Linked DNA regions of Homo sapiens. The protein of the gene in region 3 purifies or fractionates together with the protein of the main gene of each other region. This does not show direct contact. Each region holds a gene or a part of one and is shown on either strand. Other genes may lie near its edges.

What was found.
Region 1: the proteins of PLEKHG3 (region 3) and KLHL21 purify together in Homo sapiens (affinity purification with mass spectrometry; one large-scale study listed by BioGRID and IntAct). This does not show direct contact.
Region 2: the proteins of PLEKHG3 (region 3) and MTMR14 purify together in Homo sapiens (affinity purification with mass spectrometry, with the first as the bait; one large-scale study listed by BioGRID). This does not show direct contact.
Region 4: the proteins of PLEKHG3 (region 3) and PPP2R2C purify together in Homo sapiens (co-immunoprecipitation; one large-scale study listed by IntAct). This does not show direct contact.
Region 5: the proteins of PLEKHG3 (region 3) and HMGN3 purify together in Homo sapiens (affinity purification with mass spectrometry, with the first as the bait; one large-scale study listed by BioGRID). This does not show direct contact.
Region 6: the proteins of PLEKHG3 (region 3) and PTPN4 purify together in Homo sapiens (co-immunoprecipitation; one large-scale study listed by IntAct). This does not show direct contact.
Region 7: the proteins of PLEKHG3 (region 3) and MYO1D purify together in Homo sapiens (affinity purification with mass spectrometry; one large-scale study listed by BioGRID and IntAct). This does not show direct contact.

Annotation. Positions count from the first base shown.
Region 1 is NC_000001.11:6,596,370-6,599,869, reverse strand, and holds part of KLHL21 (kelch-like protein 21), read left to right. Parts: intron 1-417; coding exon 418-823; intron 824-3,500. UniProt on the Homo sapiens protein: Substrate-specific adapter of a BCR (BTB-CUL3-RBX1) E3 ubiquitin-protein ligase complex required for efficient chromosome alignment and cytokinesis.
Region 2 is NC_000003.12:9,670,005-9,673,504, reverse strand, and holds part of MTMR14 (phosphatidylinositol-3,5-bisphosphate 3-phosphatase MTMR14), read right to left. Parts: intron 2,458-3,500; coding exon 2,335-2,457; intron 821-2,334; coding exon 747-820; intron 1-746. UniProt on the Homo sapiens protein: Lipid phosphatase that specifically dephosphorylates the D-3 position of phosphatidylinositol 3-phosphate and phosphatidylinositol 3,5-bisphosphate, generating phosphatidylinositol and phosphatidylinositol 5-phosphate.
Region 3 is NC_000014.9:64,707,424-64,710,923, forward strand, and holds part of PLEKHG3 (pleckstrin homology domain-containing family G member 3), read left to right. Parts: intron 1-3,500. UniProt on the Homo sapiens protein: Plays a role in controlling cell polarity and cell motility by selectively binding newly polymerized actin and activating RAC1 and CDC42 to enhance local actin polymerization.
Region 4 is NC_000004.12:6,371,615-6,375,114, reverse strand, and holds part of PPP2R2C (protein phosphatase 2, regulatory subunit B, gamma), read left to right. Parts: intron 1-2,414; coding exon 2,415-2,592; intron 2,593-3,500. UniProt on the Homo sapiens protein: The B regulatory subunit might modulate substrate selectivity and catalytic activity, and might also direct the localization of the catalytic enzyme to a particular subcellular compartment.
Region 5 is NC_000006.12:79,214,183-79,217,682, reverse strand, and holds part of HMGN3 (high mobility group nucleosome-binding domain-containing protein 3), read left to right. Parts: intron 1-2,660; coding exon 2,661-2,711; intron 2,712-3,500. UniProt on the Homo sapiens protein: Binds to nucleosomes, regulating chromatin structure and consequently, chromatin-dependent processes such as transcription, DNA replication and DNA repair.
Region 6 is NC_000002.12:119,982,661-119,985,399, forward strand, and holds the end of PTPN4 (tyrosine-protein phosphatase non-receptor type 4), read left to right. Parts: 3' UTR 1-2,239; downstream 2,240-2,739. UniProt on the Homo sapiens protein: Phosphatase that plays a role in immunity, learning, synaptic plasticity or cell homeostasis. Regulates neuronal cell homeostasis by protecting neurons against apoptosis.
Region 7 is NC_000017.11:32,870,625-32,874,124, reverse strand, and holds part of MYO1D (unconventional myosin-Id), read left to right. Parts: intron 1-3,500. UniProt on the Homo sapiens protein: Unconventional myosin that functions as actin-based motor protein with ATPase activity. Plays a role in endosomal protein trafficking, and especially in the transfer of cargo proteins from early to recycling endosomes.

The DNA.
Region 1 (3,500 bases), on a different chromosome or scaffold from region 3:
GCTTGGAGGGTGCCCAGGAAGCCTAGGAGTTAGTGAGCAAGTCCCTGTGTGCCCTGCTGACAAGCTCTGTGGCTCCCCAGGAGAACTGTCCCAAGGCCCAGGGCTCTGGTCTGCTGAGGTGTATGTATGGCTGGGGGGCGGTGTCCAGAGGAGGCTGCTGGATTCTTCCAGCATTGCACTCAGGACCTTTGTTTGGTAGAGGCTTGGCAGCAGTCATCTCGCTGGACAGTGGTCAGCGTGTGCTTTGCCTTAGCCACAACATGTGGCCTGGGCTTTTGGGGAGAGGGTGTGCGTCTGGGGTGAAGCCCAGTGATGTTAATTCCTCCCAAGGCAGAGGCCCTTGCGGAAGTTCGGGAGGGTGCAGGTGGGTGACTCACCTGAGTGGGCTGATCTTCTGCCTGTCATGCGTCCTGGCAGGTGGGTCCGATGGCTCCCGGCTCTATGACTGCGTGTGGAGGTACAACTCAAGCGTGAATGAGTGGGCGGAGGTGGCGCCCATGCTGAAGGCCCGCGAGTACCACAGCTCCTCTGTGCTGGACGGACTGCTGTACGTGGTGGCCGCCGACAGCACCGAGCGCTATGACCACACCACTGACTCCTGGGAGGCCCTGCAGCCCATGACCTACCCCATGGACAACTGCTCCACCACTGCGTGCCGTGGCCGGCTCTATGCCATCGGCTCCCTGGCTGGCAAGGAGACCATGGTGATGCAGTGCTACGACCCGGACACCGACCTGTGGTCGCTGGTGGACTGCGGCCAGCTCCCGCCCTGGTCCTTCGCCCCCAAGACTGCGACTCTAAACGGACTCATGTACTTTGTCAGGTGAGTTCCAGGTGCCGAGCCCCACTGTGTGTTTGGTGTCTCTTACCAGGCCCTGTCTTAAGCACACATCATGGCTGTTCTCCCTTTTCCACAGATGAGAAACTGAGGCCTAGCTGGGGTTGGAGGCTGGGTCTGTCTCTTTGTTTTTGTTTTGTTTTGTTTTTGAGACGGAGTCTCGCTCTGTCGCCCAGGCTGGAGTGCTGTGGCGCAATCTCAGCTCACTGCAAGCTCCACCTTCCGGGTTCACGCCATTCTCCTGCCTCAGCCTCCAGAGTAGCTGGGACTACAGGCGCCCACCACCATGCCTGGCTAATTTTTTTGTATTTTTTGTAGAGACGGGGTTTCACCGTGTTAGCCAGGATGGTCTTGATCTCCTGACCTCATGATCGGTCCGCCTTGGCCTCCCAAAGTGCTGGGATTACGGGCGTGAGCCACTGCACCCGGTCTGTTTTTTTTTGTTTTGTTTTGTTTTTTTAAAAGAAGAGTTTCGCTTTTGTTGCCCAAGCTGGAGTACAGTGGCGCGATCTTGGCTCACTGCAACCTCTGCCTCCCAAGTTCAAGCCATTCTCCTGCCTCAGCCTGCCAAGTAGCTGGGATTACAGGCATGTGCCACCATGCCTGGCTGATTTTTATATTTTTAGTAGAGACAGGGTTTCTCCATGTTGGTCAGGCTGGTCTAGAACTCCTGACCTCATGTGATCCAGCTGCCTCAGCCTCCCAAAGTGCTGGGATTATAGGCACAAGCCACCACACCTGGCTCATTTTTTAACTTTTTGTAGAGACAGGGTCTCGCTGTATTGCCCCGGCTGGTCTCAAATTCCTAGCTTCAAACAATCGTCTCACATTTCCTGCCTCCCAGAGTGCTGGGATTGTAGGTGTGAGCCCCCACACCCAGCCAGGCCTGGTCTTTCGGAGCCCACAGTGCTTGTTCCATTCCTTTGGGTTTAAGGAAAACCCCAGGCTTTCTTAAGCGATTTCACAGGTGGTGGAGTTGAGCTCTTCCAGCAAGAGTAGGCTGTAGGCTGAGCAGCACGGAGCAGAGACAGGCAGCCTGCGGGTCATCATATGTCTGCTGGCCTTGATGACCTGTCTGGTCACAGCCAAATGCTGCCTCCGGCTGGTTTCTGGGCATCAATGATGGCACGGGGCAGCCCCTCCCTGCTGTACTCCGCTGCTTGTTCACATAATCCTGCTGCTCCCTCCCAGCCTAGAGCCTGCCTGAAGCTCTGGGTCCAGGAGGGAAGGGGAAGAACTGAATGACAGTCCCCACTGTGCCCTTTCGTGCTGGGGCTTTGAATGGGGAGCTTGGGGGATGTGAGCTCCCTGCTCCTTGGCCCCCTGCCTCGCACTGCCAGAGCTGCCCTGGCCTTGGCATCTGCCCCACCATCCCCCCAGACAGGAGGCTCCTTACCAGGCTTTTGGAGTGAGCACCAAGAAGAACAGGGGTGGCGTTGCTTGTCACGCAAGTAGCTGGGCACCACCACATGCCCAGAACCAATGGTCTTGCTCTGAGAAAGCCCTGGAATCTCAGCCAGCTCTGGTCCCATTATAAAACATCATCTGACCCTTTGCCCGGCTCTCCCTCCCCCAAGTTGTGAAGGTGTCTTCAAAGAGGGGGTGGAGATGGCTATAAATACAACTTATCAGAGGGCCAGAACCTTCCTTTCGGCCCCTAGGCAGTGGTTCCAGGCCCAGTGTCTTTGAGAGTCCTCCTCCCCTCCCCCATCTGTCCTAGAGCAAGATGTGAAGATGTGCGCCAGGGAGGTCTGCCTGCTGGGTTAACCTTCCCATAGGGAAGCATGAGGGTCTGCCCCGCCACCCCCACCCACTGCTGACCTTTCCAGGGGTTTCCTAAGCCACTTGCACGTGTGGGAGGAGGCAGTGCTCTGGAAAGGCTGCATGCGTTCATCTTACCAGTGTGACCTGTGCCGGAGCACAGAGGAGGGGCGCCCAGGCTCAGCCTGAGTGGAAGCTGCTTGAGCCCTAAAGAGAAGGCTAAGCATGCAGGGGCCCTGCTTGGGGCTGGTCCCCCTGGGCTATTTGTCCCGGTGTCACTTTGTCTGCGCACTTTGGCTCTTCAAGAGCCACATAACCCTCTGCCCAGAACACCACCTGTCTTTGGGCAGCTTGTGCCTAGGACGTGCCATTCTCAGGGAGGCCACAGCCTCAGCCGTTGTCCATGTGACCCACAAATGACCTGGGCCTCCCTCCCCTTGGTTCTGGTACAAAATGCCTCCTTGGCTGGGGTGCAGTAGCCCCCTCTGGGAATGCCGGCGAGCTCTGTCCAGCCTCTGGGCTGTGGTTTGCAAGTCTCTGCTGGGGAAAGACAGGGCAGCCTAGCAGGTTCCAGGGTGTAATCATCATCATCATCACCACCACCACAGGGCCCACAAACTGAGGGTGACTTTGACATTTTGAAATGATTGGGGGCAAAAAATCAGGAATAACATTTCAAGTTAGACGAGATGTAAATGTCTGTCCATGGATAGTTTTCTTGGCACACAGCCAGGCTCGTGTCTATGCATTGTCTGTGGCTGGTTTTGTGCTGCCGTGTCAGGTTCACAACTACTGTTGTTTGTCTTGTAGTATCTTTGTTTCTTTTTTTTGTTTTTGAGACGAAGTCTCACTCACTATGCCTCCCAGGCTGGAGTGCAATAGCACGCTCTTGGCTCACTGT
Region 2 (3,500 bases), on a different chromosome or scaffold from region 3:
ACAACATCTTGCACTGATGTTAGAGGTCCTTGGCCTCCCTTACTAAACAGGCAGGTATTGCCAGAAAACTTGAATGCTACACACTAGACCAACAGCTTTAATATCCAGTGCAGAGAATACAGCCCTGGCCACAGGTTGCACACACTTTTATGTGCCAGGAACAAATGCAGCTTTGTGGATACCAATGTGCTTTGCAACATGGTGTGGCCACTGTCCAGTTACTGGGAACATAGCAATTATGTGTTCTTCTACCACCAGAATAGCCTTGCCTGGGGCAATTTCCATAAATAACTCAATCACTTCAAGACATGCACCCAAAGGGTGACATCCACTCAGGCTACAGCAGCAAGTGTAGTTGCTCACACAGAGTACTAATAATGTCATTTTACACTTAAACAGTATTTTCATGCACAGACCACTTTCATATAAATCAAAACTGAGCTAAATCGTTCCAAGCTCCTGAGAAAACTTGAGGCTTGGAGGGGTGAAGTACTTCACTCAAGGCTGTGGCTAGGACCAGTGACAGTACAAAATCCCTAAACCCCTTGAGTGGAAAGCCCCTTCCCCAGGACACTATCCTATGCTTAGTGTGGCCTGTGACTGGGAACCAAAATGTCCTACACTGCCTGACACAAACCCTCCAGGAAAGCTCCCAGGGCGCCAGTGTAACTAAGTAGAGAGGGCTTGCTCATGGCCCCCAAGGTCCCCAGTCCTAGGATGCCTGCCACTAGAAGAGAGCCCCCTACCTGGATACGGGATGGAGAGGAGAGTGAAGTCGGCATAGCGCTGGGCTTTGTCCACCTTCTCAGAGGAGGTTACACTACAAGACAAGGATACAATGTGTTACAGTGTCGCAACACACACACAAACACACACCATTCCCCAAATAAGGGTTATAATCACAAATGAAGCTTCTGCTAAAAAAAACTATTCTTCATTGTTAATAATTCCCTTCAGCAGTGCCTACTTTGTACAATTAAGAACTATAACTTCAGCTGGGTGCATCGGCTGGAGGTCATGTTCCCAACATGGAGAAACCCCGTCAAGACCAGCCTGGACAACATGGTGAAACATTGTCTCTATCAAAAATATAAAAAACTAGTGGGGTGTGGCAGCGCGCTCCTGTAATCCCAGCTACTCAGGAGGCTGAAGCAGGAGAATTGCTTGAACCCAGGAGGCAGATGGTTGCAGTGAGCCAAGATTGTGCCACTGCACTCCAGCCAGGGTGACAGGGTGAGGCTCCATGTCAAAAAAAGAACTCTACCTTCTCTGCCCCTATTCCAACATATCAACCAAGGGAAGTTACTCCCCCTCTAATACTACAGCAAGCCTCAATCAGAGCCTAAAGGTGGAAAACAACCTTCCACCTGACCCCAAAATGCACACAGTGTAGCCACTCTGACCCAGGAATGAGATGAGAGCCAAATAATATGATCCTATGGGAACCCTTTTTTTCTGCTCTCCTGTCTTCTCTAATAGTCACTGAGCCCACTTCTGAACAGGGTGAACAAACAGCATCTGAAAATAAACACTGGGGACTCTGACAGATAAAGGATGGGAGGAATAAGGCAATATTCAGATCTGAAGATAGGTGAGCTCTAACGTTAGCCTCAGTATGCCTTATTTTCTAAGACCACCTTTTAGGATCATTTAAAAACATTTAAAAATCATTTAAAAAACAAAATTTTGGAAAAAGTTCCTGAAGTCTCATCACTAACCCAGGCTCTATTTTTTAGTTTTGACTTCTTATATTTGAATTTGGTCCATATGTGTTATTTTTATATGACAGCAGTCACTGAAGTAAAATTTGAATATATGCTGATTTTTTTGTTCAATTTTAAAAGAAATTCTAGGACCAGGCACAGTGGGCTCATTCTTGTAATCCCAGCACTTTGGGAAGCTGAGGCAGGAGGACTGCTTAGGGCCACATGTTTGAGACCACTTTAGGCAACAAAGACTCTGTCACTATGAAAAATAAATTAAAAAAATTAAGAGATTCTAATCTGCCACACATGGCATAGAACATGGAGCTGGAAAAAAAAAATACAGAGATATGTAAGAGAAGGTGGCAGCAGAGCACTGGGTAGAGACTGATGGCTGCCTCAGTCACTAACATACAACCTGAGCAAGCTACTTCATCTCTCTGTGCTTCAGTGTCTGTAAGAGGGGGACACTGGTACCTATTTTGCAGGGCTGTCTGAAGATACAGTGAGATAATGTACAGAAAGCCCTTTGTAAGAAGGCCAGCACGCAGTGACAGCTACATACTAACGCCAGCCCTGCAAATCTGTACACACTGCCTCTGCTCATTTTGTAGTGGGCGCCTGTACTTACTTCATGCCAAACTTCACCTTCTTGTTCTCCACCATCAGGTCACAGATGTATTTGACTGACAGGTATCGAAGCAGCTTGATGTCATAGCCTCTGACCTTATCAAAAAGATGCGTGTCACCACTTCTGAAATAAAGAGCCAGAGGGAGAAGTTACATGGCATGTTCACTCACAGGAGCTTGGGGGTGGGCACTCATTCAGGGAAGTATGGATGTCACTCTTCTCCAGAAGCTGGGGCGTGTGCTAGGTGGACGCATGGGTGCCAAACAGGACAACTGATTTCAGCGAGGTTGCAGGGAAGGTGACTTTCTAAGAGACTACCCCAATCTCTGGGATGTATTTCAAAGAAGAGAAATTTGCAGGTGGAAATGGAAAAGGACTTTCTGGCATTGCTTGACATTAAGCCAGAAGACTCAAAATAATCTCAGCGTTCTAAAATGCAGCAGGCTGGTGGCTGATAGAATCTTTCCGTTTCCATTAGAATTGATCCCCTTCCACCCCCTCCTTTTCCCCCATTTATGATCATTTTTAGCCACATGACTTGCTCATAATGTAGCAGTCTGAAATACTTGTACAGATAAAGTTTTTAGAGCTATTTTATCAACTGATTATGAAATACTAGCAAGTAAATTCCCTCTACCTAGCAGGCCGATGAAGCAAAGAGAAAGATAAAATTTTTCTATCTCACTGCTGCCTTTTGATCAGCCCTGCAGATACAGGCAGAAGTAGAAAGCATAAACAGTCGCCATTACTTTTTTATTTTTTAATCCACACTGCTTTGTTGTCCCCAGCAGTTTCCTTGCTAAGAACAGTGTATGCTGAAGATGGTGACCTGGCTGGGCAGAGGTCACCTGATCTAGGGAGAAGAGCCAAACATTCTTGAGCACAAGCCAGAGCCGCTGCTTTCAGAGCTAACAGGCAGAACCTGGGCATAGCAAGATGCCCTTTCATGAACTGAACTATGATTTGGGAAGCTGATCTTAACTAGGGTGCTTGTGTGCATTCCAGAGATGCTTGACACCAGTTAAAGACTTTCCATGTGGTACAGACCATGCAAAGGAGCTTTTCTAAAATATCCTGTAGTATTGTTTTCTAAAAACATTTGGAAAGCGGATAGCAAGAGTGTGAACCAGCCCATTTCCTCCTTTTATAGGGACTCAAACTCCTGT
Region 3 (3,500 bases):
TAAGGAGTTAGCACCTACTATGTATGAATGCCAGATGCAGAAGACACAGCAGTGAAGAAAATATACAATAATTATTGACCCAGTGGAGCTGACTTTAGCAGAAGTGACAATAAACAAGATTGAAATAGCAAGTGTGTTAGTGATAAACAGAAATAAAAAATATGATAGGGAAGGTAGGTGTGAATTGTCATGGAAGGGGTGAGGTGACAGTTTAGATAGGGTGGCCAGGGAGGCTTCCAGGAGGAAGGTACTTTTGAGGTGATGCCTGAAGGCGGTATTTTTCTTCATCGCTGCCTTTTCTAACTTGAAGCCCAGTTCATCCCACTGTGGCATCGAGGAACAGAGTTTGGAGTTGGACACACCTTGGTTTCAAATCCCTGGCTTGACAGCTCACTAGCCCTGTGGACTTTGATGTGGTGCTAAATTCCTTTGAGCTGTGTTTCTTACCCAACGTGGAGTTAGTCATCATACTTACCACATGCGGCATCATGGCAATGTACAGTGAGATAACGTATGTTGAATGCTTAGCAAAGACTATAGAGAGGTTCGATAAACTATTTCTCCAACCAAATTCTGCAGGGGTAGCATGAGATATTTAATGTCATTGCTAAGGACTGTAGGTGCAAAGCTTTTCATTTTAGATATTGGGCAGGAGTGGGGAATTAGAGGGAGGGGAAAATAGAAAACCTTGGCAAAAACTTTCTGGTTAGGGAGGCTTTCCTGCCCTACCCTAGATTGCAGATGGCTGAGGACGTGGGACTCCCAGGTATGTCCTATGCCCACCCCCATCCTACAGATAGGATGACAGGGGCAGCCCTGACCACCCCCCTCTTGCTCTGGAATTCCCCCTGCTTCCAGCCAGACTCAATGAATCACACCTTCTCCCTGACCTCCCGACTCTGCCTCACAGCTGGGAAGGCTGTCCACCCCTCCCCCAGCCTCCGGCAGGTAAATTATGCCTGGAGGTCGGAAGCGGAGTGGGGCGGGGACAAGGGGTAGGGAAAGTGAGGGAGGGGGCAGATGGTGGGTGGAGCTGTCCTAGGAAAGCCCAGAAGGGTGGCAGGAGGATTCTGGTGGAGGCTTCGAGATGGCTCGGAAGACTTTGAATAAGGGTTCGCCAGGGACCAGAATTTAAAGTAACAGAGTGACAGACACAATGAGAACTCAGGGTCGGCTGCCTAACTCCTAGCCGCTTCTACCCAGCTGATCTGCTGAGTCTCCGACCCTCTCTGCTGGAACCACGGGCCTACAAAGGGAGGGGTTTAATCTAAAGTACCGCTGTCAAAGTTTGTGGTGAGTGGCTTCCTGGAGACCCTGCCCTAGTTCAGGAAGTGAGAGATGGGCAGTGGAGGATGAGGCCTAGGGAAGTGGTCATGGCCAGTTCCACCCCCCCGCCCCACCCCCCAAGTATGTCGCTGCACACTCGGCAGCCAGGCAGGCCCTGTGATGAAGGAACTTCCTGGGACTGCCAGTTGGTGCCTGGAGACGGGTAAAAGCTAGATGATCTGATATTAGAGGAAGTTGCAAAGAGGGCCCTGAACAGCCCCAAGCATGTTAGTGTTGGGTGACCTGAAGTCAGGAGAAAGAAAACTGGACAACGTGGACTAAACTGATCAGCAGGGGGCCCATCTAGAGCTGCTGGTAGCCCCTCTGTCTGTCAGCTGCCTGGGGATAAAGGTTGGCCATGCTAACTGGGTTGCTATCTGGGGACAGGAATGGTGCTGGACTCATCTTTGTGCCCAGACAGCATTGAGAATGGTACAAAGTGTGATCAACAGGGAGTGATGGGCTTCAGCCGTGGTCCCACCCTTAGAGTAATCTGGGCTTGTGGTCTCATTTGCTACAGCTTTTGTTCCATGGGATTAGGGAGAAGAAGGTAGTGTTAGGGTCGAGTCCAGCCCTAGGTGGGCTGTTGCCATCTGGGAATGCAAGCACTAGGGAGAAGAGGGCTTTATACAGTTCTGGCGGCTGGCCTTTGGGGAGGGAGCCCTACGTAAGCTCAAGGAATGGATTTTTAAGGACTTGCACTCTCTTTCATGCTGAGCAGACTTGGGCTGAACACAACCCAAATAGGGTTCTCGTGGGCACAGTGGTAGCTGTGCATGCAGCCTTTTGTGAAACACAGTTTGAGGGTCCTAGAAGTTGATCTGATTATTGCCAGAATCGGAGCTGGGACTGGAAGGGAAAGATGCAGGAGGAATGAAGTCGATTTTACCTTGGGAACAGGGTCCCAAAAGGAGAGATGGTTTCTACAGGTGCCGGAAGCTCTTAAAAACTCACATCCTTTACTTCCTAGGCTGTGAGACTGTGTGTGTGTGTGTGTGTGTGTGTGTGTGTGTGTGTAGTATTAGAAAGGAACCAGTATTCTCATATAGCTTCTATTCCTTCAGTTCATTGCTACATCCCCAGTGCCTGTTGTACAGTAGGATTCCAATAAGTATTTGTTGAATAAGTAAGTAAAACCCTACTGTGTGACGAGACCTTAGGAATTAAGGAAATGCTCACACTATGAATGTTCTGTTCCTGACAGAGAATGTCCATAAGATTCTAAGAAGTTAACCTGTAGTCAGCTGTTCTGACAGTGGGACAGGAAGCCCTGTATTCCTGCAGCATGTAAGAAGGAGACCTACAGTCATTGGGACCTGTCTTCCAAAGCTTGCTACACATTTTGCTCCCATGCAAGTTGGCCCCAAAGTGGACAGCAGGGTGTATTTATAGCGTTGGATATAGTTCTTCCCATAATGTGTTCCATAATATCCAATAACACCTCTCCTACCCTAAACTCTTATTTGGAACTCAGCCACCCAGCACCCTTGCTTATTTGCATGTAGCCAAGAAGGTCGAGGACTCAAGGTCCTACATTTTTCTTCATGCCAGTCTTCTCAGACCCTGTTTAACTTCTACATATAAGCTATGTCATGCTATGTTCAAGCTGGGAAGAAGCAGCAAATGAAAGAGGATAAAGGCCGGGCGCAGTGGCTCATGCCTGTAATCTCAACACTTTGAGAGGCTGATGCCGGTGGATCACCTGAGGTCGGGAGTTTGAGACCAGCTTGGCCAACATGGTGAAACCCCGTCTCTATTAAAGATAACAAAAATTAGCTGGGCATGGTGGCGGGCACCCGTAATCCCAGCTACTCGGGAGGCTGAGGCAGGAGAATCACTTGAACTCAGGATGTGGAGGTTGCAGTGGGCCGAGATTGCGCCATTGCACTCCAGCCTGGGCGACAAGAGCAGAACTCTGTCTCAAAAGAAATTAAAAAAATAAAATGAAAGAGGATAAAGAAACAAGCATAGAGGGGGAAAAATGACTACAGTGCAGAGTTGGCAGTGAGAGCAGACTGAGATAAAAACTCCAGGAAAAGCAAGTGCTAGCAGAAGTGCCGGGGATCTTTTTTTTTTTGGAGGGAGGGGGTGTGGAGGGAATGACTTGGCACACCTTGGGTGTCTGGGGATCATCAGTTTGATAATTTATGCTTTGCTGGTAATTGTGACCCAGA
Region 4 (3,500 bases), on a different chromosome or scaffold from region 3:
AAGTTTATGAGGGTTTCATCTAGAGGGAAGGATACAGCGATCACATCTTGATCACCCTGGTGTTTGGGGCAGAGCCAGTGGCCTTCATAAAAATCCTGTTTATGTCCCTCCCAGCGTTGGAGATTTTTCTCTGTAAGTCACACACATCCCAAGACACTTAACTGTCACTGAGAACCTGGGTGCCCTGGTCTGTCCTCATCCTGCCTCTCACCTTGTTTGCTTCCGATTTCACCCACGCCACGCCAACCCTGCACAGCATTCTACCCACCCTGCGCAGTTCACACTGGAGGCAGCTGTTTACTGAGGAGCTGCTCCACGCTAGGCCCCGGGCTAGCCCTTGGGGCCCTAGAGGTGAGCAAGGTTCAACTCAGTACCTGTCCCCAAAGTGTCCCCAGCCCCCAAGGAAACAGACATGGAATCGCCATCACACTGGCGCTCAGTGCGGTGACAGAGGAACACAGAGAGGCCGTGGGCACCCCAGGAGGCCTTTCTCTACTTTGTCAATTTGGTGAACTCCCATACATCCCATAAAACCCTACTGGCCTTCACCTCTGTAAAGCCTTTCTGCGCAGGCCAGATGACAATTGTGATCTTTCCTGTGTCCCCTCTTGCCTTTTGGATCCGACACTGTCTGTCCTTAGTGTCTGTATCTTCCTTGCCCCTCATCTTGACTAGACTGTGGCTTCTGCGGAGGCAGCATGTTTTACTCATGAAACCCCCAAACCTTCAGGGAAGGTTTCCTTTCTCTCTTCTTCTCTTTACTAAAAAACTGGTTTTGAGCTCTGGTTTGGTGGATGGCAGCAAATGGCTGGAGCACTGGATGAACTGGGTCCCAAGGCCGCCTGGAGAAAACAGAAAGCAATGTTGCCGGAAGGAAGCAGGAGGTGGACTGAGATGCCAAGACTTTGCTGGGCCAGTGATGCTCTGCCCTTCTCCAGAGCAGCTGGGCTCCCTCTCTCTCCTGAGAGTCCAGGGATCCCCAGGGTGGGCAGTGGCTGCACCCCGAAGGAAGGGAAGGTTAGCAGCATAGCTAAAATATCTGACACAGGAATACGTGCAGGGAGGATGCCTTGGAGGAGTCACACTAACACCAACTCCCAGGCACACAACCTAGAAGCAAAGACACAGAGGCAACAATGCAAGAACCACCCAGAGCCAGGCTGTCACTCACACCGGTGCTGCGTGCACACACACACACACACACACACACACATGCATGCACATACACGTATACTCAGTCATGCATGCACACTCACATGCACACTCATATGCACACACTCATACATGAACTCTCAGCCATGCACACTCCCACACACACAGGCTGGGTGCCCTGGTGTGTGGGAAAATTTAACGTGGGCTGCAGAGCTGCCTCTGCTCCAAAGGAGCTCAGTGCTTGTCACTCCGACTGCAGCACCGAGGCTGTCACCTCCCATCTCAGCTGTTCCCTGAGAGCTCAGGGACACAGCCCATTCATTCATTCTCTCACACATTCACTCATTCACTGGAGAGTCTCTCTGCTAGGCCTTGGACTGAGCGCTAGAGAGATGGAGAGATAAACAAGAGGTGACGCCTTGCTCCCGTAGCTGATCCCTAGTCCACTGGGAAAGCTGATGGGACCAGTTGACAGCCTCAGGGTTGGTCAGGGCTGTGCAAGGGACCTTCAGGGCTGTGAAAGCTCAGTGTCTGATGCCATGGCAAGGACTCCTCGCACCAACTGTCTGAGATGAAAGTTCGTATGAGTCAGGCTAACTCCACCGCTGTAACAAAACAACACCAGCAGTCCAGGGCCGAGCACGGAAATGCATTTCTCACTATGGGAAGGTTCGATGTGGATGTGCTGGTTGGGACACAGCTCTCCTGCAGGATCCTTCCATCCCCATCCCATGAGTCTCAGTCCCTAAGGCTTGGGTCCTCACCTTCCAGGTGGGGAAGGTGCTCCCGCTGCTTAGCTGCATCAGGGCCAGGTATCACTTTGCTCACATCCCATTGGTCAGAACTAGTCATGTGGCCATGTCTGGGCACAAAGGCTGCTGGGAAATGTAGTCCACATGTAGACAGCTGTTTCCCAGTGACAGCACTGCATTGCAGGAGGAGGTGAGGAGGCCTGGCAGACAATTGGCTGGCTCTGCCACAGTATCTTTTTGTTTCATTTTAGAGTTGAGGAAATTGGGGTATAGGAGGGTTCAGCCACTTATTCACAGACCCACAGCAGGTAAGCATCCATGCCTCTCTTGCAGGGCTGGTGGGCGGCGGGCATTTGCCATCTGTCACTGCCTATTTCAGACCACGGAGGATCAGGATGGACGCCCACCCCTGTGTTCCAGCCTCCGGTTGGGATCACATGCTCACGGCATGCTATGTCCTGATGCCACCACCTGGCCTTCACCTCTTCCCTGCCTCCTCATCCTCTGCAGGTGCCAGTGCTGAAGCCCATGGATCTGATGGTGGAGGTGAGCCCTCGGAGGATCTTTGCCAATGGCCACACCTACCACATCAACTCCATCTCCGTCAACAGTGACTGCGAGACCTACATGTCGGCGGATGACCTGCGCATCAACCTCTGGCACCTGGCCATCACCGACAGGAGCTTCAGTATCCTTCACTGTGGCCTGGCCAGTGCCTCCCACGGGCAGAGTAGCTTCCGTTGGGTGGTGGGTTTGGTTTGATTGGCAGACAGCTGGTTTGGGGATGGCTGCATTGTTTAACTTCTTCAGTGAGGCACCTCTGGCTCCTAGTATGCGTGTGAGGCCCAGATACAAAATCATGTCACGTCTGTTTCTGAAAACCGCAAAGTCGTGGTTGCTGAGCATTGCACCCATCGCCTCCTCCAGCATGGCCATGATCCCCTCATCCTAGGGCCTCACAAGGGGCCAGGAAGGAGACAGAGTTCAGGGTTCAGCTGCTCTGGACGAGGGACTGCTGGCCTTGCTCAGCGTCCACTGAAGGCGCCTCGGGGCCCTCCCCACTGGGACCCAAGGCAGGCTGTGTTAGCATAGGAGGACCAGCACTGGGGCCCCGGCCAGGGCTTCGGGTGACAACCAGGGTGTCAGAAGCCCAGCTGGGTTGGGGTCCTGAGGGCCCCCTGCTCGGTGTTCTCCTGTGTCAGGGCAAGCTAGGGGAAGCAGCAGCATTGACGATTCCCGCCGACTGCTGGGAAGAGAGCTGGTGATGACATGAGCACCAGCCTGCAGGCAGGGCGAGGCTTGGCCTGCCGGGGGGCTGGTGGGCGGGCAGGCAGGTTGCTGTGATGTCACTATTCTGCATACAACCAATGATAATAATAATTATAATAACACACAGTGAGACTCTGTGTGCCAGGCTCTGTGACTAACATCAACAAGCATTCATTTTAACTCATTTCACCTTCACAACAACCCTATGAGGTAGGTACTATTCTAAGTCTCCTTTACAGATGAGGAAACTGAGTCACAGAGCACTCAAGTTAACTTGCTCAAAGCTCACAGCCAGCAAGTGTCAAAGCTGGGCCTGAAACCCAGGCC
Region 5 (3,500 bases), on a different chromosome or scaffold from region 3:
TAATGGTAGGTCTTTCCAAAATAGTCTACCTGTTACTCTGTGCAACAAAAACAGATAACCAGTTTGCAGGGAATCTGGATGTAAGGAAATGTGCTCAACTTTAAGGCTCTGTTGAATATAGTTTCATACTGTATAATTTAGAAGACTAAAGATCTTTTTTATTGCATAACCTCTGTGTAACAATTTACAGTTTATGAAATGCTTTCTCCAGTATCTCACTTGATCATAAGCAGTACCCTTTGAGTTAGCTGTCATTATCATCTATCATTCATGGATGAAGGAGACTGAGCCACCGTGATCAAGTCACTGTCCCAGATCGTACAGCTTCTAGGTATAGAGCCAAGATTCAAACCAGGTGTCTTGAGCTCACATCCTGCATTCATACCATTGTATCACACTGATCCCCGGTAAAGATTGATTGTTCCTGACTGCAGGTGTATTAAATGCTTGCTAATAGAAAGCCATTGTGGTAGATTGCCAGAGAAACGAGCTTTGCTAGCTCTTTACATCCAGAGCCTTATGTTCATTTGTCTGAAGGCATTCACATTTTCAGTGTACCTGCTTTTTTCATGCAGTGCCTTTCCAAGTTTCTCTTTTTTGAATAATTTGCATCCCATACAAACATTATTAGGTCGGTGTTTAGAGATTGAACTCCATCATATTGCCTGTCACTAATCCACTGCATAGAAAAATATGAAAATAATGTCATTAACATCAGTTTTTCTTATAATAGCTATGTACTGCTGCTTTAACTGCCTATCAATTATAGGTAGAGAGTACCCTAGACTGAAATCTACTGAGTGACCTGACAGGTCTGAATGAAAGCCCAGCACTCCTAGACAACCAAGGGTCTGTTGTGTGGCCAGAAGGGTTGAGTTTGTAGCCATGGAAGTGAGCAAAGACCAGTGGTCCACCTAGGAATTATCTTCATATGCTCAGACTAAGATTTTGCCATCTCTACCACAACTGACTGATTAACACAAGATCTATAAACGAAATATTCCTGTGCAAGAGAGTGGGGTACAAAAAAGAGAAAACTGTTTCTTCATAATTGAGAAGGTTCCACGGAGGAGGGGAGATGGTTAATTTGGAAACAAGAGAGAAATCCATGACATGGGAGGTTCTGGAAAGAGGGCATATGATAGGCTCTGGGTAACGGGCAGCTCTAGGGAATAGAGAAAGGTCACTGGGTCCTTTGCCTTGAAGAAAAGCTTTTATCTTTCCTAAAGACTTTTATATATACTTAGGACCTTTGTTTTGCGTACATTTTTATGACCTAAGTTTTTGAATTTAGCCTTATTTTATGTGGACTTTTCATGTATTTACATCACCTAACTTTTTAATTCCATTCACTGTTACATAAATATGTAAATAAGTAATAGTTTACTTAATCATTTCTCTATTATTTACTGATACATGAGTTGCTTCCACTTATTCCATATTAGAAATAGTACAAATAAAACCATATTTTTACAAAGAGTTTCTTTTTCTGAGTCCAGGTACCAAAATTAAAATTACTAGGTCATCATATTAATTCTCTGTGTCTTTTTCATATTGCCAAGTTGTTCTTTGAAACGATTATATTAATTTACAGTGTCACTAGCCTCAAACAGTGGGTTTTATGATCTCTTGAATTTTGTTCTCATTTTATCAGATGAGGCATTACCACATAGCTGTTTTATTTTGCTGAGCCAAACATCGTGTCAAATGTCAGTTTGCTATTTGTATTTTTTTCTAACAGGAGCTCTATTCAGATCAGCAGCCTATTTGTGCCATAGAGACTGAGTATTCACTTTCTAACTTTATGTAGTTTAAAAATGTTAAATAGTCTAGTTTTCTAAGTAGTTTAGTTGTTTTAATATTATTTAATAACTCTTAGCCAATAAAAAATATTGGGACATGTGCAGTGTCCAATAAATCCAAAGTACATTTTACTTTAAAATATAAAGAAAATATAAGATATGTTTTTCCCATAGTATACACATCCTTTAAAGGAATCAGGTTTGAGCTGTTACAAGAGGAGGCAGGTGCTGCCCCAGGGGATGGATCAAAACCTGGAAATAAATCAGCTGAGGGTGGCACGTAGCCTGGCTGTCATGCCAAGGCTGGGAGTTTAGTAGAGATGCTGGAGTTGATAATGGAAAAATGGTAATCTATGATAAATTTGTCAGTTCATATCAAGAAATGGGCTAGAAATCAAGGCTAGGCAAGGATGGGATGAAAATGTGCTTTTGTGGTTGGCCTGGGCTTTACCAGCATCCTGCCCTTATCTTAAAGGAATGGAGTGACTGGAACAAGCAAATGGAACAAGAGGGTGGCTCCCAGGCATTCCTGCCACTGACCTCTGGCCCCTGTTCTTTAACTGGAATCATCAAAGATAAATGAAAGTCGCTTAGGGTGAATGCACATTGAGAACAGGGAATCACATAGTTCTTTCACCATTTCTGCTTTAAAAGTCGAGCAGTTATGCAGCTATCTACCGTGTGTGTGCATGCATGCACGTAGGTGTGTAAAAGACATACCCTGTTGTAATTTACTTTTTCTTTGCAAAAAAATCTGTTGGCTTGTCTTGTCCTGGGAATGAGATAACTTTTTAAAAACATTTTTCTAATGTGTGTTTTCCAATTTAAATACAATTCACTGAAATATTTTCTTTCTAGTCTCCAGAGAATACAGAGGGCAAAGATGGATCCAAAGTAACTAAACAGGAGGTAAGTATATCTTTGACATCCTATATTTAATTATTTACATTGAAATGTTTAATATTGTTAGGATTGTCTGCATCTGAATGAAATGCGGACAATTGTATGAACAAAGTTTAATATGAATGATCAAGGTTGTTAAGACTACCTGAAAGAGCGATAAGTGTCTATATGTAGTCTCGCTTGGCCTAGGTGTGTTTCAGTTGGGTATATTGATGAGGCATTTTCCACTTACTGTGTTGTTTATGTTTCTACCTGTCAGCCCTGCTTTCTGTTAAAGCAGATACTGAGAATTCCTTCTGGGCAAAGAGTAAGATAATAGGTAAATTCATCAAGGAGAACAAAGTCTGCCTTTCACAGCAAGAAAATGAAAGACTGTTGATCTCATAAATTCTGTGCTCCAGTGAGTGGATTATAAGTCACTTTTTAGGTTCTGAATATTTTGCCTGAGAAGGATCATCTCTAAAATCAAAAACTATAGGCCGGGCGCAGTGGCTCACGCCTGTAATCCCAGCATTTTGGGTGGCCGAGGCGGGCGGATCACGAGGTCAGGAGATAGAGACCATCCTGGCTAACACGGTGAAACCCCATCTCTACTAAAAATATAAAAAGTTAGCCAGGCGTGGTGGTGGGCGCCTGTAGTCCCAGCTACTCGGGAGGCTGAGGCAGGAGAATGGTGTGAACCTGGGAGGTGGAGGTTGCAGTGAGCCGAGATCACACCACTGCACTCCAGCCTGGGTGACAGAGCGAGAGAGACTCTAAAAAAAAAAAAAAAAGAAAAAGAACTGTAGAGGGATA
Region 6 (2,739 bases), on a different chromosome or scaffold from region 3:
TGTGTTGCTGCATGTGTTTACCATAGAGAACGTTGCCAGGCTTTGTCAAATGAGGACATTGTTGTGAGGGTGTGACTTTTGTGAAGCCAGAAAACTGTGCCTAAGATTCATTACAGTGAGTATGTGCAGAGGCCCCTGACCCAGTAAATGCTTTTTGCCTTTTTATTCCCAATGTCTTGGACAGTTGAGACAACTTGGCCCAACTCTGAATTGTAGCAGTGATGTCTTATATGCTTACGAGTTTATATTAATTCAGCTGAACAAGAACTACATCTTAAACCACCTTTGTAGGTATGATTAATACGTGCAACAGCTGCTTTAAAAGGTGGTATTTATTATTCATCACTCATGAAACTTGACTCAGTGAGGACTTCATTATTTTTATTTCTCTTTCCACGTCTCCAACTTTTTAAAAATCACTAATTTAACTCTTTGTTAAGTACTCAAGTACAAAGTGATCTCTTCTTTCATGAACTTTGCTATAACTGTTGAAAGGATTGGTGTCAGGCTCTCTCAACCCTGGGAGTTTCCAAAATTTAGCAAATATTACTTGTGATAAGCTTAAATGCCACATCGCTAAGTACAATTATTACCAGGAATCCGTCAAGGGGGAGATAGCCCCGCTCACACCCTTAGACCCAAACAGGTGCTGGTTCATGCTTTCTCCACAAATTGGCAGTTGGGTACTTCCCCACTGTCATCACAGTTGAGCTCATTTTAACATATATTCAAAGAAGCTTTTTAGTTTCTACTCCTGAATTGTAGTGTTCAAGTTATTTGCCTTCCTGGGTAAGAAAATTTTAACCCAAGTCTGGGATTCTCTGGCACCTGTCTTTTCCCATCTTTTAATGAGTTGGCAAGATTAGGTCAAATTTCAATGCTAAATTTGATTTTTTGAATTTTAAATAGTTGCACTTTATTTCATGCTGACCACCAACTTAATTTATACATTTTAAAATAAAATTATCCTAGAAGTGTTGTAAACGTGGGAAAATTTTAATTAGTGTTGGAGGTCATTAGATTGGACCCAGGTTTAAATATAATGATCTCTTCACAGCTTATTTGATGTTTAAGAGCAACTTGTGTGATCTTAGCTTTGCAGGTTTTCTGTAATTTATGTAGCACAATAAAGGATAACCAGTTGACTGTGTTACTGGACTCTGAGTTCTCACAGCTAGTTTCATCTAAGCTTGGTTTATTATCATTTCTGCTTTGGATTTTTTTGTGCATCACATGAATACTTAGAAATCCATTTGTTTTCAGTGTAGTACCTAGGGTGAAGTAGATGCTGCACAAGTAAGTTTAAGGGAATAAAAGTCCCGACACTTTATATACATGTTGAGGGGCACGATTTAAGAGACTGAAACAGTTTACATTAAACTGTTTTTATTTTCTGCCAGTAGACTCTATCTGCTTAAAAAAATAAAAATTGTTCAACCCAGTGTTCTCCAGCATCAGGACATTACAGTTGTAATCTATGTTGTAATCTTTTCAAATAAGAAAAGCTACTCCTTATTCTCTACAGTGTAGGCTTAATTTTAGAACCGATAATTTACTATATCTGCATTATTGATATTTTTAAGTAGTAGTTTTAAAAATAATTATTTCTATGTGGAGGGTGTTTTAATTTGGGATTTTTTTTTTCTTGTAACAGGTGCTATTTGTAAATATGAAGGGGAAAAGTCACTTAGTTAAAAGTCTAGCTTATGTCATAATTAAGATACAATTATTCATTTCATGTTTGATTCTATTAAACTAGTGGCAAAACAGAATTGGTCCCTTAGTTTTTTAGATTACCTTTCCCCCTATATCACAAAAATATCTCTTTCCATATGATCTCATAATTGAGGCAAAGAAGCTAAGGGTTTATTTAAAATGTGTATAAGCTTGAATTTGGTCAACACTGCATAATTTGAAATCACTCTGCATTTGTCACTGCAGCTTACTGTATGCTTGAAAGGCCTTGTGTGTTTGTCTTAATTTTAGTGAAAAAATTAGAATTTCTGCCATTCATGTACAAAAAAATTACAACTACAGCAAACAAGATAAAAATGCTGGTTTGCATTAATACTGTTTTAGTCTTAAGAGCAATTTATATTATGTGAAATGCTGTTACACATATTTTGTTGGCCATATTTCATTTTGAGAAACAGTTGTTCAGGTACAAACATGACAAACAACTCTAGCTATGACTCTTAATGTTCAATTGCAAAATAAAGATGTGCTTTAGTAATCTAAAGTACAGAAGTTTTGAAGATTATTTTATGGGAGTTTTTCATGGGCTTTTCTAACAGTGGTTATATTTAGTAACTGGTTATCAGGAATGGAGAGAATGACAAGTGTAAAATTTATTTCTGGAGTTATTGACTCACATAGTGGCTGTATTTGAGGAAAGGGAGTAGGTGAGGAACTAAAAGGGATTTAGAAGATTAAATAGTGTCTGAAGAGGCCGGGCGCGGTGGCTCACGCCTGTAATCCCAGCATTTTGGGAGGCTGAGGCGGGCAGATCACAAGGTCAGGAGATCGAGATCATCCTGGCCAACATGGAGAAACCCCGTCTCTACTAAAAATACAAAAATTAGCTGAGGGTGGTGGCGCACGCCTGTAGTCCCAGCTACTTAGGAGGCTGAGGCAGGAGGATCACTTGAACCTGGGAGGTGGAGGTTGCAGTGAGCCGAGATTGATTGCGCCACTGCACCCCAGCCTGGTGACAAAGTGAAACTCCATCTCAAAAAAAAA
Region 7 (3,500 bases), on a different chromosome or scaffold from region 3:
TATAGAGGAAGAGAGGAGTTGAGCTGAGTTCCAAAGGATGGGTAGGATTTGTAAAGGTGGACTCGTGGCTGGAGAGCATTCCAGGTGGATTAAGCAGCATGAGCAGGGGTTGGCGGCATGAAAGCTGACTCTGGGTGACAGTGAATAAGTTAAGTTGTTTGGAAGGGAAGGGGTTGGTGTTGTGGAGAGGTGGGAGGAATCACCAGCTCTCCATATGGCCATTGGCTAAGGCCCAGGTTTTTAGGTCTACCTTTATACCCAATCTCCACATCATTCAAAATCCTGGGTGTACAGATGTATATGTATTTGTATGTATCTCATCTGTGTGTCCTTGATGACTCTGAGAACTGGCTGTGGTTCTCATTGTACAGATCAGTGATTGTTCATGACTTACTTATACATTAAAATAGTTGGTTCCCTGTAGCCATAAACACAGTGCCAGCAAAGGGTAGCACCCTTACCCTCCTCTGAAACTATAAATTCTGACCCAGACAGAAAACAGTCCTCTCTTTCCTTTCACTTTGCAGAAGGTGACCAGAAACCCACCACTGCGTAATCCAGGTGCTGTTCTGTGATGTTGAAGTGTTTTTGTCTCCTGGAATATTGGTGGTTGGGCACATATTTCTGGTTGTATATAGCTGAAATTGAGCGTGTTTGGTCCATTGGTATATATGGATGTGTGAGTGAAATTCCCATGTGTGCTTGTACCTCATGACTCCTGCCCTCCCAAGCTGTAGTTCCTGCTCTTACTCCCCAGTCTGGAATGTCCTGTCCTCCCTTCCCACCTGGCTCTTCTGCAAGGCCTGCTTCCTTCCTTTAAGTCATGTAATAGTCAAGCACTCAAGGCTGCAGGTGCTTCATGGGTCTGTGTTTTCTCAACAGCAGCACCTAGCATAATGCTGGGTACAGAGTACATTCCTTCATGACAACATTTTTTTGTAGAGAGGGAAAAATGCTTGTTACTTTTTTTTTTAAAAGCTTATGTGGCATTGTCCTTTTAGAATTATCTTCTTGTTTTGCTATTAATCTGGCCTTCTTTTTCCCTCTTGGAGCTAAAGCTTGATTTTTAGACAACTGCCACAATTGATGCAACTTTCTCCTACCATTTTTACTTTTAAAAATTGACCTAGGCCGGGCGCGGTGGCTCACGCCTGTAATCCCAGCACTTTGGGAGGCCGAGGCAGGTGGATCATGAGGTCAGGAGATCCAGACCATCCTGGCTAACAAGGTGAAACCCTGTCTCTACTAAAAATACAAAAAATTAGCCGGGCGCGGTGGCGGGCGCCTGTAGTCCCAGCTACTCGGGAGGCTGAGGCAGGAGAATGGCGTGAACCCGGGAAGCGGAGCTTGCAGTGAGCCGAGATTGCGCCACTGCAGTCCGCAGTCCGGCCTGGGTGACAGAGCGAGACTCCGTCTCAAAAAAAAAAAAAAAAATTGACCTAGATGTGTGTCTGGATGGGGCAAGAGTAAAAGAGTGATGTGGATTACTGCGAGTTAGGATATCTGAGAAGGAGCTTCAACTTATATTTCTTGCTTTATAACAAAACCTGCGGCCGGGCGCGGTGGCTCACGCCTGTAATCCCAGCACTTTGGGAGGCTGAGGCGGGCGGATCATGAGGTCAGGAGATCGAGACCATCCTGGCTAACACCGTGAAACTCTGTCTCTACTAAAAATACAAAAAAAATTAGCCAGGCGTGGTGGTGGGTGCCTGTGGTCCCAGCTACTTGGGAGGCTGAGGCAGGAGAATGGCGTGAACCTGGGAGGTGGAGCTGGCAGTGAGCCGAGATTGCGCCATTGCCCTCCAGCCTGGGTGACTGAGCAAGACTCCGTCTCAAAATAAATAAATAAATAAAACCTGCTTGTGTTCTAACAAAACCCTGGAATATCTGAGAAGGAGCTTCAATTTATATTCCTTGCTTTATAACAAAACCTGCTTGTATTGTGAGGGCTCCTTCTTTCCCTCCCAGAAGTCTCTTGTTGGGGGATATTTCTTTTGACTTTTTGGTGGAGATGGAGGTGGTGGTGATAAGTTCCTCATTCCAATTTCCAAGGGTCTCTGCTCAGGCGTAAGACCTCTGTATGAGTCCTGCCTGCTTCCATGGTCAGGAGCAGTTCCTGCCAGCAACCCTGATGACCACTTGAAGCCCTAACCACAACATCCCTGTCCTACCATGTTCTGCTTTCTCTGTAGCCACTTCCTTTTTGGATGTGGAGCTCATTGGTTCCTTTTCTCCTTACATGGGCCATTCCTATACGTGAGTTCTTCCAGCATTAACATCAGCTTTGCACCCTCCCTCTGAGAGTCCTGCCAGGGCAAGCTGCTTGCATCTGCTCCTCGGCGTGCTCCTTACTCCGCACACTCCTCACTCTCAGCCATGTGCGTGAAAGGAAGAATGCAGGCTACTGCTCAGGAGTGGACTTGAGCCACGGACGGTGTCCTTGACAGAAATGCTTTCCATTTTATAGGACAATGAAATATACGTTAGACTTCCAGAGGTCCAGTTTCTTAACTTTATTTGTTATTGGTTCCTGTTTTGAGAATAAAGCATCTATTCAGTCTGATATCTTGGCTTCTCAGAAATTTAATTTTTCACCCTCTCTTTTCTTACTGGGTTTTGTCTTCCATAAAAGCAATCATCTGAAGCACTGTGCATGCCAAAGCTCCATGCAACTTCTCTTTTTTAATCTAACACAGTATGTCTTTTGTACCTTTGCTTAGACCTGGGATTTTCAGCCTTGTCACTATTGACATTTTAGACATTTTAGACTTTGTTGTAGGGGCTGTCCTGTGTGTCGTAGGATGTTTAGAAGCATCCCTGGCCTCTACTCACTAGATGTCAACAACTCCACTCCTCTTTCATTTATGACAACCAAAAATGTCTCTAGACATTGCCACAAGTCCCTGGGGGGGTTGTGTGTGGGTGGGTGTCTTTGTGCTCACATGCATGCAATATTATCCCTAGCTGAGAGCCACTGGCTCTTGCTGTTTTCACCCCCTGGAATGTCCTCCTTTCCTCATCTCTGCCCTCATTCCCTGCCTGCCATACTCTTACTCATCCTTCAAGACCAGATGTGAGAAATCTTTCCCAATCCCCCAAAACAGGTCAATGTCACATTCTCATGTGCTCTCAGGATACATGGACATTTATTCATAACAGAGAATTTATCATATTCATATTCCTCACCAACCTATGGAATCCTCAAAGGCAGATAGCCTGTTCAGAGGTAGATCCAGGTTTTCTGGTGCTTTGAACCTCATAATGCTTGGGGGCAACCACCTTTAAGAAAAAGAATGTAAATCATGAATGCAGAATAAAATGCAAGGCTTTGGAAGGGGAAGGTGCAAGTGAGTGGCTGTGAAGCAAACCTACCTTTAATCCTTTTGCGTTTTCTGTGATGCTACAGAATTTGCCCTTCCCCATGTTTAATACATCTTAAAATGAATTAACTGAGTACTCAAATGTTGGCTGATTGGTCTTCAACCAATGGAATTATTTCT